2 separate regions of the Homo sapiens genome follow, and region 1 is linked to region 2. The links come from fine-mapping of genetic effects on gene expression. Tissue or cell type: hypothalamus. Region 2 holds a variant in brackets; the other region holds the start of a gene. All regions are shown on one strand. Distances are from middle to middle. Region 1 holds the start of MXRA8 (matrix remodeling associated 8). Region 2 holds the start of TAS1R3 (taste 1 receptor member 3).

What was found. PIP is the estimated chance that this variant, and not a neighbour inherited with it, causes the effect.
Region 1: MXRA8 starts here. The variant in region 2 is the best candidate, but not a certain one, in a credible set for the expression of MXRA8 in hypothalamus (GTEx, PIP 0.70).

The regions. Positions count from the first base shown.
Region 1 is chr1:1,355,510-1,360,866 of GRCh38, reverse strand. MXRA8 (matrix remodeling associated 8) reads left to right here and starts at 2,312. Exons shown (of 10, transcript NM_032348.4): 1 at 2,312-2,411; 2 at 4,163-4,186; 3 at 5,115-5,357. The coding sequence starts at 2,363. RefSeq lists a silencer at 2,179-2,298 and enhancers at 2,629-3,211, 3,799-4,351.
Region 2 is chr1:1,327,534-1,332,840 of GRCh38, reverse strand. CPTP (ceramide-1-phosphate transfer protein) reads right to left here. Exons shown (of 3, transcript NM_001029885.2): 3 at 3,945-5,307. The coding sequence ends at 5,078. TAS1R3 (taste 1 receptor member 3) reads right to left here and starts at 1,561. Exons shown (of 6, transcript NM_152228.3): 1 at 1,305-1,561; 2 at 903-1,203; 3 at 35-817. The coding sequence starts at 1,495. The variant A/G (reference allele first, on the strand shown) is at 3,067.

The DNA.
Region 1 (5,357 bases), 28 kb before region 2:
TGTGCATGTGTCTGTGCACACTCATGGGAGTGAATATGGGCTTGGCTGTGCTGCTTGTGGCTCTGAGTGCCTGTGGTTTTTCTTCCCAATGAGACGGGCTGCCTGGAATGTCCGAGTCACCAGGAATGGCAGCCAAGATCAGATCCTCAGTGCGGGCCGTGGGGCCAGCTGACCCCTCTTGCTCCACCCCAACCCCCAGAGGTGGGGCTAGGAGGACGGTCCAGGGCGCTGGTTTGGCTGGGGGCTTAGCCAGAGCACAGTGATGCCAGTGGCTTTGTCCTGGTTTGTCCTCTTCCCAGAGGGAGAAAAATGCCAGGCCAGGCTGGGAATTAAGTCACACACCCACAGCTCTGCAGACCACCCCCCAGCGAGCAGAGGCTCCACAGTCCCAGCCCAGGAAGGTGCAGAAGAGGCACAGGTCACTGGCCCTGGGAGGAGCAGGTGACCTGGTCACTACCAGGCCTGCTCTTCTCTGTGGCTGTTTCCCACTGAGGGCCGGACAGGGAGGGTCAGGGAAGGGGCCTGATGGCCTCATCAGCCTTTTGTTCCTTGCCCAGGGCCCCATGGGGGTCAGCTGCCCCCAGGTGGCCCTCTCAGAGGTCAGGGCCCTCTCAGACGACAGCCTCTGGCCTGCATCTCCGCTGGCTGGGTCCCCGAAAGTGTGGCTGGAGGCCACTGCCCGGAGAGGGACGGCCCTGCAGAGTGAGGCGAGCCCTGGCCTGAGGCTGTCGTGCGGACCAGGCGCCCCTCTCAGCCCTGCACCCAGAGCCGGGCCCTCCCAGACCCGAGGGCCAACCCTGTCCCCCCACCAAACTGCTGTCCGTCCTCCCTCCATGGGGAGAGAGGGAACAGGGAGAGTGACGGAAGGAGACAGAGACTGCAGAGGCCAAGGCCCCAGAGTGTGCGACGGAGACAGACATGGGCGGGCGGGCAGCTGCCAGCACTAATACAAACCAGTTGGAAAAACAGGAGGAGAGGCCAGCAGAGGCCTCGAGGCCAGCCAGGTGGGGCTTGTTTTTCCAGAATGAAAGGCCCAGGGAGGGAGTGGGGGTGGCGGGATGTGTTCAGCCCTGAAGCCAGTTTGGAAAGGTCGCCGCCCGGGCCAGGACCCTGCTGAGGAAATGGGTCTGACCGGGCTGGGGTGGGGTGGGGTCTTCTGTCCTTACGCCGGTCCGTGTCCTGCCCGTTCCTCTCACTGGAGCAGCCGCAGGTTCCCCTCCCCTCGCCCTGAGACCACCACTCTGATCTGCACTGGGCTTCCCACTGTCTGAGGACTTGGGCACCAGAGCAGGGTTCAGGGGTGAGCCCCCCACCCAGCTGGGGCCCTCGGGGCCTGTAAGGAGAGCTCACTCCAAGTGGGCGGGCGGAACTATGCACTGAGGGTTTCTAGTGGTTGTGGTTGTTCAGATTGTTTTTTCTTGAGGTTTGCTTGATTAGAAGGAGTTGGGTTTGCTACACAGTGCAGGCTGTTATTTCGCATTTGTTTATGTGACTTTGTAAGTTTTCCCACAGTTTCAAATTTGTGCCTTCCATGGCAGGGGTCCCACTCTCCCCTTTCTCCAGGAGGCTTGTAATCCAGCACCTGGTTTCAGGGACACCAGGCTGCACCCTAAAGGCGGGCAGCCCCAGGGGACGGGGCCAGCAGGGAGAGGTCTGCTCACCCCAGCACCCCCAGGCCTCCCAGTGCTCAGGGTCCCCTGTCCCTGGCTGACTCTCCAGGTTGTAAAGGGGACTAGTGACTGGCAGCGTCCATCATCCTGGCCCAAGGGAGCCCACCGTGGCCCCCAGAGGAGACGGGTACCAAGGTCATGCAGGGCCAAGGGTTGGAGCTGGAAGGGCCATCTGGTCTGAAGGAGAGCACCAGCGTGCACCGTGGGTGGGGGCGGTCTCAGCGCTGGGAGGCCTTTCTGGGGCCTGGAGCAGACTGAGGGGAGGACCCTGCCCTGAGGTGGCTCACGTGGGGGGAGGCCAGAGGTGGGGCGGAGGGGCCACTCACCCAACAGTCCCAACCCTTCACCACAGGCCCGGGAGGCTCCTAGACGTGAGACACGATCACGTGGTATCAGGGGCCCATGTCCTCGGACCTTCTTGTCCCTCCAAGGGTGCGGTCACCACCCCTCCCCAGGCCTGACCGGTGAGGGGCTGGGCCTCTGCTCCCACACTGCCCCTCCCCAGCAGGCCAGCAACGATGGGGGAGGCCAAGGGGCCCGGCAGGAGCCAGAGGGGGCGGTCCCCAGACCGTAGACAGGCCCAGGCCTCCGTGATGTCACCGCGGGTGCTAAGGAGGGGGAGGGGGTAGGGCTGTTTTTCTGGAGAGAGACTTAGAGCCGAGTGGGACAAAGCCTGGGGCTGGGCGGGGGCCATGGCGCTGCCATCCCGAATCCTGCTTTGGAAACTTGTGCTTCTGCAGAGTGAGTGTGGGGCCCTGGGAGGCGGGTGGGGGGTGGCACGTGGGGCTGTGCGAGTCCGTTTCGGACAAAACCGCCCATCTGAGCTTGGGCCAGGAGGAGTGGGAAGGTCCCACCAGGGAAGAGGACGGGTCTGGGGGCGCTCGGGAGAGCCGCTTGCCAGAGGCTGTGACGTCTTCAGTTAGACTTTGGCCAGCCTCCCCTCCTAGGGAGTTGAAGCCCAGAGGGCCAAGAAGGGCTGGGGGCCCAGGCACGGCGGCGTCTCCCTCGGGGCCCCTCCTGCAGCCCCTCTTGCTGGGGCTCTGTTTAGGGAGTGGGTCAGTGATTGAAGGGGACCTGAGAACTGTGGGGTCTGTTCCAGCCCCCGCTCCCAGGCCTGGGCTGGCTGCTGACCGGGCACATTCCTCTGGGAAGCTCCCAGGCTCTCGGCCACATCTCTGGGGCAGTTTTCACATAGGATCTATGTGAGGGAGAGCAGCCCCCAGTGATCTAGAGACACAGGATAGAAACAGCTTTTATCACCCACGGGCCCTGGGGTGCACAGACTGCTGGGAGGCCAGGGAAAGTGGAGAGAGACAGGGACCCCCAGGCCAACCCTTTATTGGGATCAGGGCGTTCTGCATACAGGTTTCCCTCAGGGAATTTTTTTGGAGGCAGTTTCTCTCTCGCCAAGGAGGCTGCAGTGCAGTGGCGTGATCTCGGCTCACTGCAACCTCCACCTCCCGGGTTCAAGTCATTTTCTTGCCTCGGCCTCCCAAGTAGCTGGGACTATAGGCGCCCACTACCACCCCGTCCGGCTAATTTTTTGTATTTTTAGTACAGATGGGGTTTTTCATATTGGCCAGGCTGGTCTTGAATTCCTGACCTCAGGTGATCCACCTGCCTTGGCCTCCCAAAGTGCTGGGATTACAGGCGTGAGCCACCATGCCTGGTGGGGGAGTTTTAACTGGTGGGTTTAAGGCAAGCGGCACGAGCCCCGTGGGGCCACGCTGACTGTGGGGGGACTCCGTGGTGCAGCTGCACAGTCCATGTGGGGCGTGGGGTCTGTGGGGACACAGGGGGTGGTCACCAGGGGACAGTGCGTAGGGCGGGCGTCTGGGTGGATCAGCTCGAGGACGGGGGATGTGAATTGGAAACTGTCCCGGGTGGCAGCCCCGCTTCCGGTCAGAGAAAGTCCAGCCTAGATTCAGAGTGGATGCCGAGGCGGCCTACGACAATGAGAGTCCCTCAAGCAGCAACGCGGGCCTGTGGGGCGGCAGCCGGGGTCACGACCCACATTCAGCCTTCAGGCCTCTGCCCTGCGGAAGCACCTCAGGGGCTGCGCTGAGCCTTAGGTGTGGTGTGGGGTCCCCAGCGTCTGAGGGTCCAAGGACCCTCGGGGGCTGGGGCACAGCCCTGGAGGGAGCGTGGGGGAACCCACAGATCCAGCCTCCTTGGTGCTCTGGGTGACTTGGGTGCAGCCAGGTGGAGTGGCCCCGGTGACAAGCACACACCCCAGAACCGGCTGGCTTGGAGCCTGGCCCTGGCCCACGCCCATGCCCTGGCTTCCCCACTCAAGGGCAGGTGCCATCCAAAGCCCAGCACGGTGGCAGGGAGGGCTATGTAGGTCTGTGTGAGAGGCGTCCTCCCTGCACTGAAGTGGGTGTCACAGCATCCACTTTGGGACTACAGGAGGGACTCTGGGGGCCAAGTGGGGGGTCTCGGGGCTGGGTGGGGCTGTGGGTGGCCTCTCCAGCTCACTCCTCTCCTTCCAGGCTCTGCTGTTCTCCTGCACTCAGGTTAGTGACCCCAGCCCCAGCTGCCCACCCCCACTCCCCCTCAGCCCCTCCTATCTTGCCAGGCCCAGCCCCCGGGGGTCCTCAGGCCCTGCCCCTCCCCCACTGATTCCCCCTTGCTCATCAGGACCCTTGGGCACCTCCCCTTGCCAATAACTCCCCCTCCCCCAATGACTCCTCTTCCCCTACCAGGGCCCTTGGGGGCCTGGCCCTCCCCCACAGACTCCCGCACACCCACCAGGGCCCTCGGGGGCCCACCCCTCCCCCACAGATGCCCCCACTGACTCCCCTTCCCCAACCAGGGCCTTCGGGGTCTGCCCCTCCCCTACTGAGTCCCCTTCCCCACCAGGGCCCTCGGGGCCCACCACTCCCCCATGGACTCCCCATCCCCCACTAGGGTCCTTGGGCCCCATGTCTCCCCGACTGACTTGCCCTCCCCCATGGACTCCCCCTCCCCTGCCAGGGCCCTCGGGGGTCCACCACTCCCCCAATGATTCCCCTTCCCCCACATGGGCCCTAGGGGGCATGCCCCTCCCCCATGGAATCTCCCCCACCACGAGGGGCCTCAGGGGCCCACACCCCCCCAAAGATGCCCCCAACCCCGCCAGAGTCCTTGGGGCACACCCCTCCCCCAGTTACTCCTCCTCCTCCACCAGGGTCCTCAGAGCCCGCCCCTCCCCCACTGATTCACCCTCCCCCATCAGGACCATCAGGGTCCGCCCCTCCCCCAGTGACTCCCCCTCCCCTATCCAGGCCCTCGGGGGTCTGCCCCACCCCACGGACTTCCCCTCCACCACCAGGGCCCTCTGGTCCTGCCCGTCCCTTACAGACATCCCTCCCCCACCAGGGCCCTGCCCCTCCCCCACTGACTCCCCCAACCAGGGCCCTAGGGGGCCCACCCCTTCCCCCACCGACTCCCCTCCCCCACCAGGGTCCTCGGTACCCGCCGCTGCTGGCAGCTCCGTGGTGTCCGAGTCCGCGGTGAGCTGGGAGGCGGGCGCCCGGGCGGTGCTGCGCTGCCAGAGCCCGCGCATGGTGTGGACCCAGGACCGGCTGCACGACCGCCAGCGCGTGCTCCACTGGGACCTGCGCGGCCCCGGGGGTGGCCCCGCGCGGCGCCTGCTGGACTTGTACTCGGCGGGCGAGCAGCGCGTGTACGAGGCGCGGGACCGCG
Region 2 (5,307 bases):
CAGAGGACAGCACACCCCCATCTCCCGGGCTCACCTGCCAGGGCTTCACGGGGTCCTGCGCGGGGCAGCCTGAGGCGTTGCACTGAAGAGTGTTGTGCAGGGCCTGGGCCACGCTATACACAGCTGCGTAGACAGAGAACGTCTGGTGGTGATTTAGCCCTGCGCTCACGTTCTGCAGCGTGATGCAGTCACACTGCGGGCAGCGCTGGCCCACCACGTCCTCCTCCAGACCCTGCTCCCTCTCGCCCAGGGCAGAGCAGAAGGCCGGGTCGGTGGCCAGGGCCAGGTGCGTCTTCACGTACTGGGGGAACTCGTGCAGCTGGGCACCCCTCTGGAGGAAGCCAAGCACCGTGCCCATCTGGGCCATGCCGGGCAGCCCCATGACCAGGTCAGAGGTCAGCCAGGCCTCGCTGGCCACCCACACCTTGGGCGAGAGCCTGCTGCTGATGCTGTAGTTGAAGAGGGCGTGGGCGGCGTGCACGGAGGCGAACAGCAGCACCACCTGCACGCTGCTCTGGTTCACCTGGTGCAGGACGTCCTGCACCTTCCCCAGCCGCGAGTCATCGGCACGGGGCAGCGGCACCAGGCCCTCGTGCGCGATGCAGATGCCGCGTGCCGCGGCCAGGGCCGAGAAGATGCTCAGGCCCTGCCGGCCGTACTCGTCGTCGCTGCCCAGGGCGGCCACCCAGTTCCAGCCGAACTCCTGCAGCAGCTCCGCGGCGGCCGTCAGCTGCACACGGTCGCTGGGCACGGTGCGGAAGAAGGAGGGGAAGGTCTCCCGGGCGCTCAGCAGCTCCATGCTAGCACCGTAGCTGACCTGCAAGGGCCAAGAGGCATCTCCTGACACAGGGGCTCCCACGGGCAGGGCTGGGTGGGGGTGGGTGATGGTGGGGGGCGCCCACCTGGGGCATGAGGAAGAAGCTGAAGAACTTGCCGGTGACCATGGCGAGCTCTGACGAGTGGGGCCCGATGACAGCCAGCACACGGGGCTGGTACTGCGTGTAGTTGCAGTAGGCGGCGATGTCGCGGCTGCCTGCCTTGGCCAGGAACATGAGGCTGGGCTTCATGGCCACCACAGGCTCCGAGCACGTATCAAAGAGGTCGTAGCCCAGGCGCAGCCCGGGCAGCAGATCCGACTTGTTGTTGATCTCCTCCACGGCCATTTTCATGGCCAGTGCCCAGAGCAGGCCGTTTGAGGAGAACCTGGGGCCACACAGAACCGCAGATGGCCACCTCGGCCCCAGCTCAGGAGCACCCCAGACCTGGTCACCCTGACCCCGACCCAGGCCGTCCCACCTCTGTACCTGGTGCACACAGGGCTGCTGGGCCGTGTCCGGCTGCGGAGGCCAGCCTCCTCGGCCTCGCCCAGGGGGAACAGCCCCCCCAGCACGTAGTCCCCCTTCATCCTAAGTTGCTGTGACAGGCACAATGGGGCCCCCGTCCCAGGGTGCAGGAGAGCCCAGAGGCTGAGGCCCAGGACAGCAGGGCCCAGCATGGCAGAGGCAACTTCCAACAGGCACGGCAGGTGGCTGCCCCGACTGGGGCCTCACATGGAGTGAGCCCGGGGCGGGGAGCGGGCAGAGGATTTGTTTAGCAAAACCCTTGCCATCCTCACTTGCCACACCCTGGGGCCCCAGTGGTGTCCTCGCTTCCTGGGCCTGAAAGTTTGTGCGCGTCAGACTCTGCCTGAGGCCACTGCCAGGCTCTATGGCCAGCGTTGACCGGCAGGCAGGCTCTGCTCAGTTGCTGGCCGTGGCCTTGTTCCCTGCCTGTGGCTGAGCCCCTTGCCACCCCCCGATTCCTGGAGTTGCCCAGCAGGCTGTGGAGAGGAGAGGGGGCAAAGGGGCCTCCAGGGCTCTGAGGTCTCAGCTGCGTGGGAGGGATGCAGAGACACCCAGCCCTGGGGCTTTTCATAAGCACAGAAATGCCTCCTACCCAGCCCCGGGAGCTTCTGGCTCCCACTCAAGGCTGTGCTGGCCGGAGCCGGGGGCAGCAGGGATGGGCCCCCTAGGCCTGCAGACCAGTCAGGCCAGTGGGCAGCCGGCCAGCCAGGCCTCCACCCTGCAGCTGGGGAGGGCCCTGGGGTGGTGGTGCTGCCCTCCCAGTCTGCTTGGGAGCAGAGTTCCTTGAGGGTCTCAGCCCTTCTGCCAGAGTCTGACGCCTGGAAGCTGTAGGAACCGCATGGCCAGCTGTACTCACACTGCTGACCCCCGTCTGGGCCACTCCTGCGTGGCAGGCACACAGGTGGCTCCTGCTGGGGGTAGAGTTTGTTTGCCAGGGGGGCACGCAAACAAGGGAGGAAGGGCCACAGGCAAATGAGCGGCAGCTGGAGCAGCACCAGGTGTGCAGGGCCGGGACTCCTCTGCCTCTGTGTTGCTTTGGGGGTGCCCTCGGGGACACAGCAGACTCCAGGCGCAGGCCCTCCCAGGGGAACTGGGGGGCACTCAGCTTCAGCTAGGGCCTGGCAGACCTAGCAGATACCAGGAGGTGTGCCCTGGCTGGTGCTTCTTCCCCATGGTGTTGTGAGGAGGACCTGTGAGGGACACACACTACCACCGCACATGCATATGGCACATGCTGAGCACACGTGAATATGGCGCACATGCGAACCTGGCACACGAGCACAGGAATGCGGCACACACACAAACGGCACATGCGCATGGTACACGCGAATGGCACATGCACGGCACACGTGCATGGGACACGCACGGCACACGCAAGGAACACATGCATGGCATGCAAACGGCACACATGCATGCCACACGTGCACAGCATACATGCAAATGGCACACGTGTACGGTGCACACGAATGGCACATGCGCATGGTACACACAAATGGCACACGCACGGCAAGTGCATGGCACACGCGCATGGCACACACAAAACGGCACATGCAAATGGCACACACACGGCACACACAATACACACGGAAACGGCACATACACAAATGCCACACATGCATGGCACGCAAGCAAACGACGTGTGGCACACGCGCATCGCACGCAAATGGCACGTGCATGACACAAATGGCACATGCAAACAGCACACACATGGTACACGCAAAGC[A/G]CATGGCACGCACATGCGCACAGCATACGCTCACAGCACACACGGCATACACAAATGGCACACATGCACGTGGCACACGTGCACGGCCAACACGCAGCACATACGTGCATGGCACATACACGAAAACAGCACACGCTCACGGCCAACACGCATGGCACATGCAACTGGCACCTGCACATTGCACAGATGGCACACATGCACATGGTACATGCAAACAGCACATGCAAACGGCACACGTGCGGCACACGCAAATAGCACACTCGCACTTGGGACACGCAAACGGCACAAGCATGGCACTTGTACAGAAGGCAACACCCGGAGGGAGCCCTGCCCTGGGGCCCACGCAGACCCAGGCAGTTCTCCCGGCCCATACTGCAGTCGGCAGCCTTTGCCGGCACCATATGCAGCTCCCACAGACCCTGAGGTGGGGGTGACATCCAGGAAGACTCTGCTGAATTGCATCCCCTTTCTGTCCAGGCCACTGTTGTGGCTGGGAGTGGCCCCCACCTCCACGCACACATCCCACGCAGGCCTCTCCTCTTTTGCATGGAGAGGCGGATGTCTGCCCTCCCAACCGTCCTCCCAACCCAGCCTCTTGGTTCTGGGTGACTCTGTCTCTCTCTTGTCTCACCTGTACAACAGGCATAGTGATGGGACCTCTCTGGGAGAATGGGCACACAGCAGCCCTGCCTCCAAGGCTGGCCTTTTCTCAGGGTGTTTGTTGAGCCCTGGGGCTAACACAGCCCCCTGAGCCTGGCAGTGGGGCCTCAGCTCCCTTGGAGTTAGGTGCACCCACCTCAGCTGTGTCCCTGGGGTGAGGGCCCTCCCCACCCTCACTGGGTGCCCCTGTGTCCCCCTGCAGGAAATCAGGCACCCAGTGCACCCCAGCGTCTCCCTCCTGGGAGGCTGTGTGATTTATTAACGTTGGAAGACATCACATAGATTGCACTCTGGAAGCTCGCATGTCTGCTGGGCCGTGGGGGCCGTCCCTCTGCCACCCCGAGGTGCTGGGGTCCACTGTGAAGAGCCAGTGGCCAGGCCCCAGGCACTGGATGGTGGCTGGGCTGGTTGTGGCTGTCTGGTAGCCTTTGGCTGGGCCACAGGGTCCAGACCCTCCTGTTCCGTGCCCCACGGGTCTCCTGAGCACTGTGGGGAGGGGGCATCAAGGGGCACGGGGGAGAAGGGACACAGCATTTCACTGGGTGTAGCAGAGTCCCAGCTCCTGGGGGCCTTGGGCTGGGCTGGGCTGTGCAGACCCACGGCCGCTGCGGGAGGCGGCCTGCTGCGTCCCTCGGGGAACTGGTGCCGTGCAGGGGCTACGGAGGAGGCTGTCCCAAGGGCGGGGACTTCCTGGGCCCTTCTGTGAGGAGCCTTGGTCTCAGCTTCCGGCTGTCCTGCCCCCAGTCTGCCTGGCACGCTGAGGGGCAAACAAGGCAGGAGAGGCGGGGAGAGCCCCACAGTGCCCAGACTGCTGTTGAGGGTTTCTGCCAGCCAGGGCATGGAGGGCACTGAGTCCCCTGGGCTCAAGGCTGCCCACCTGGGCAGACACGGGGTCCCAGGCACGGGCCTGAGATGAGGACACATCGGCTGGCAGAAAGGAGAAAGGATGGAGCCTCCACACCCCGGGACCTGTGACTTCACCCTGGTTCGCAGATGCACCCCACAGGCTAGGGGGTGGCGACCTTTCGGGCTCTTGCAGGCCCGGCCCCCACCCCTGCCTGCTCTGCTCTGCACCGCACCCTGGCGAGGCCTGGCTGCGCACGCGTGTAATAGGCCGAGGGGGAGCCGTGGCCGAGGCGTCTTGTTCCGGACCGAGAGGGTGGGCCTCTTCTGGGCTGGTCGCCACCTTCTCTGTCACAGTCTGTGGTTCCTAACCAGCTCAGCTCACAGGGGCGACAGAGGATCTCCTGTTCCCGCAGCGCCCAGAAGGCTCTGCCACGGGACTCACGGCCCTGGCCACCGCAGCCCAGATCTGCAGCAGGAAAGCCGGTGCGGCCCTGGCTTCCCGCCCCTAGGGCAGGTCCAGCAGGGAGTGCTCGGCGTAGAGCTTCTGGGAGACGTTGTAGACACGCTGGATGAAGGGGAGGGCCTCGCCTAGCATCTGCACGGCCTGCTCCGGGGGCCCCACGTTCATGGCCTCCAGGAAGACCTCGCGTGTGGGCAGCGTGCAGAAGGCCACGGTGACGGCGCGGCGCACGACCCAGGGGTGGTAGGCGGCCAGCGAGGCGTTGTAGGAGTCGG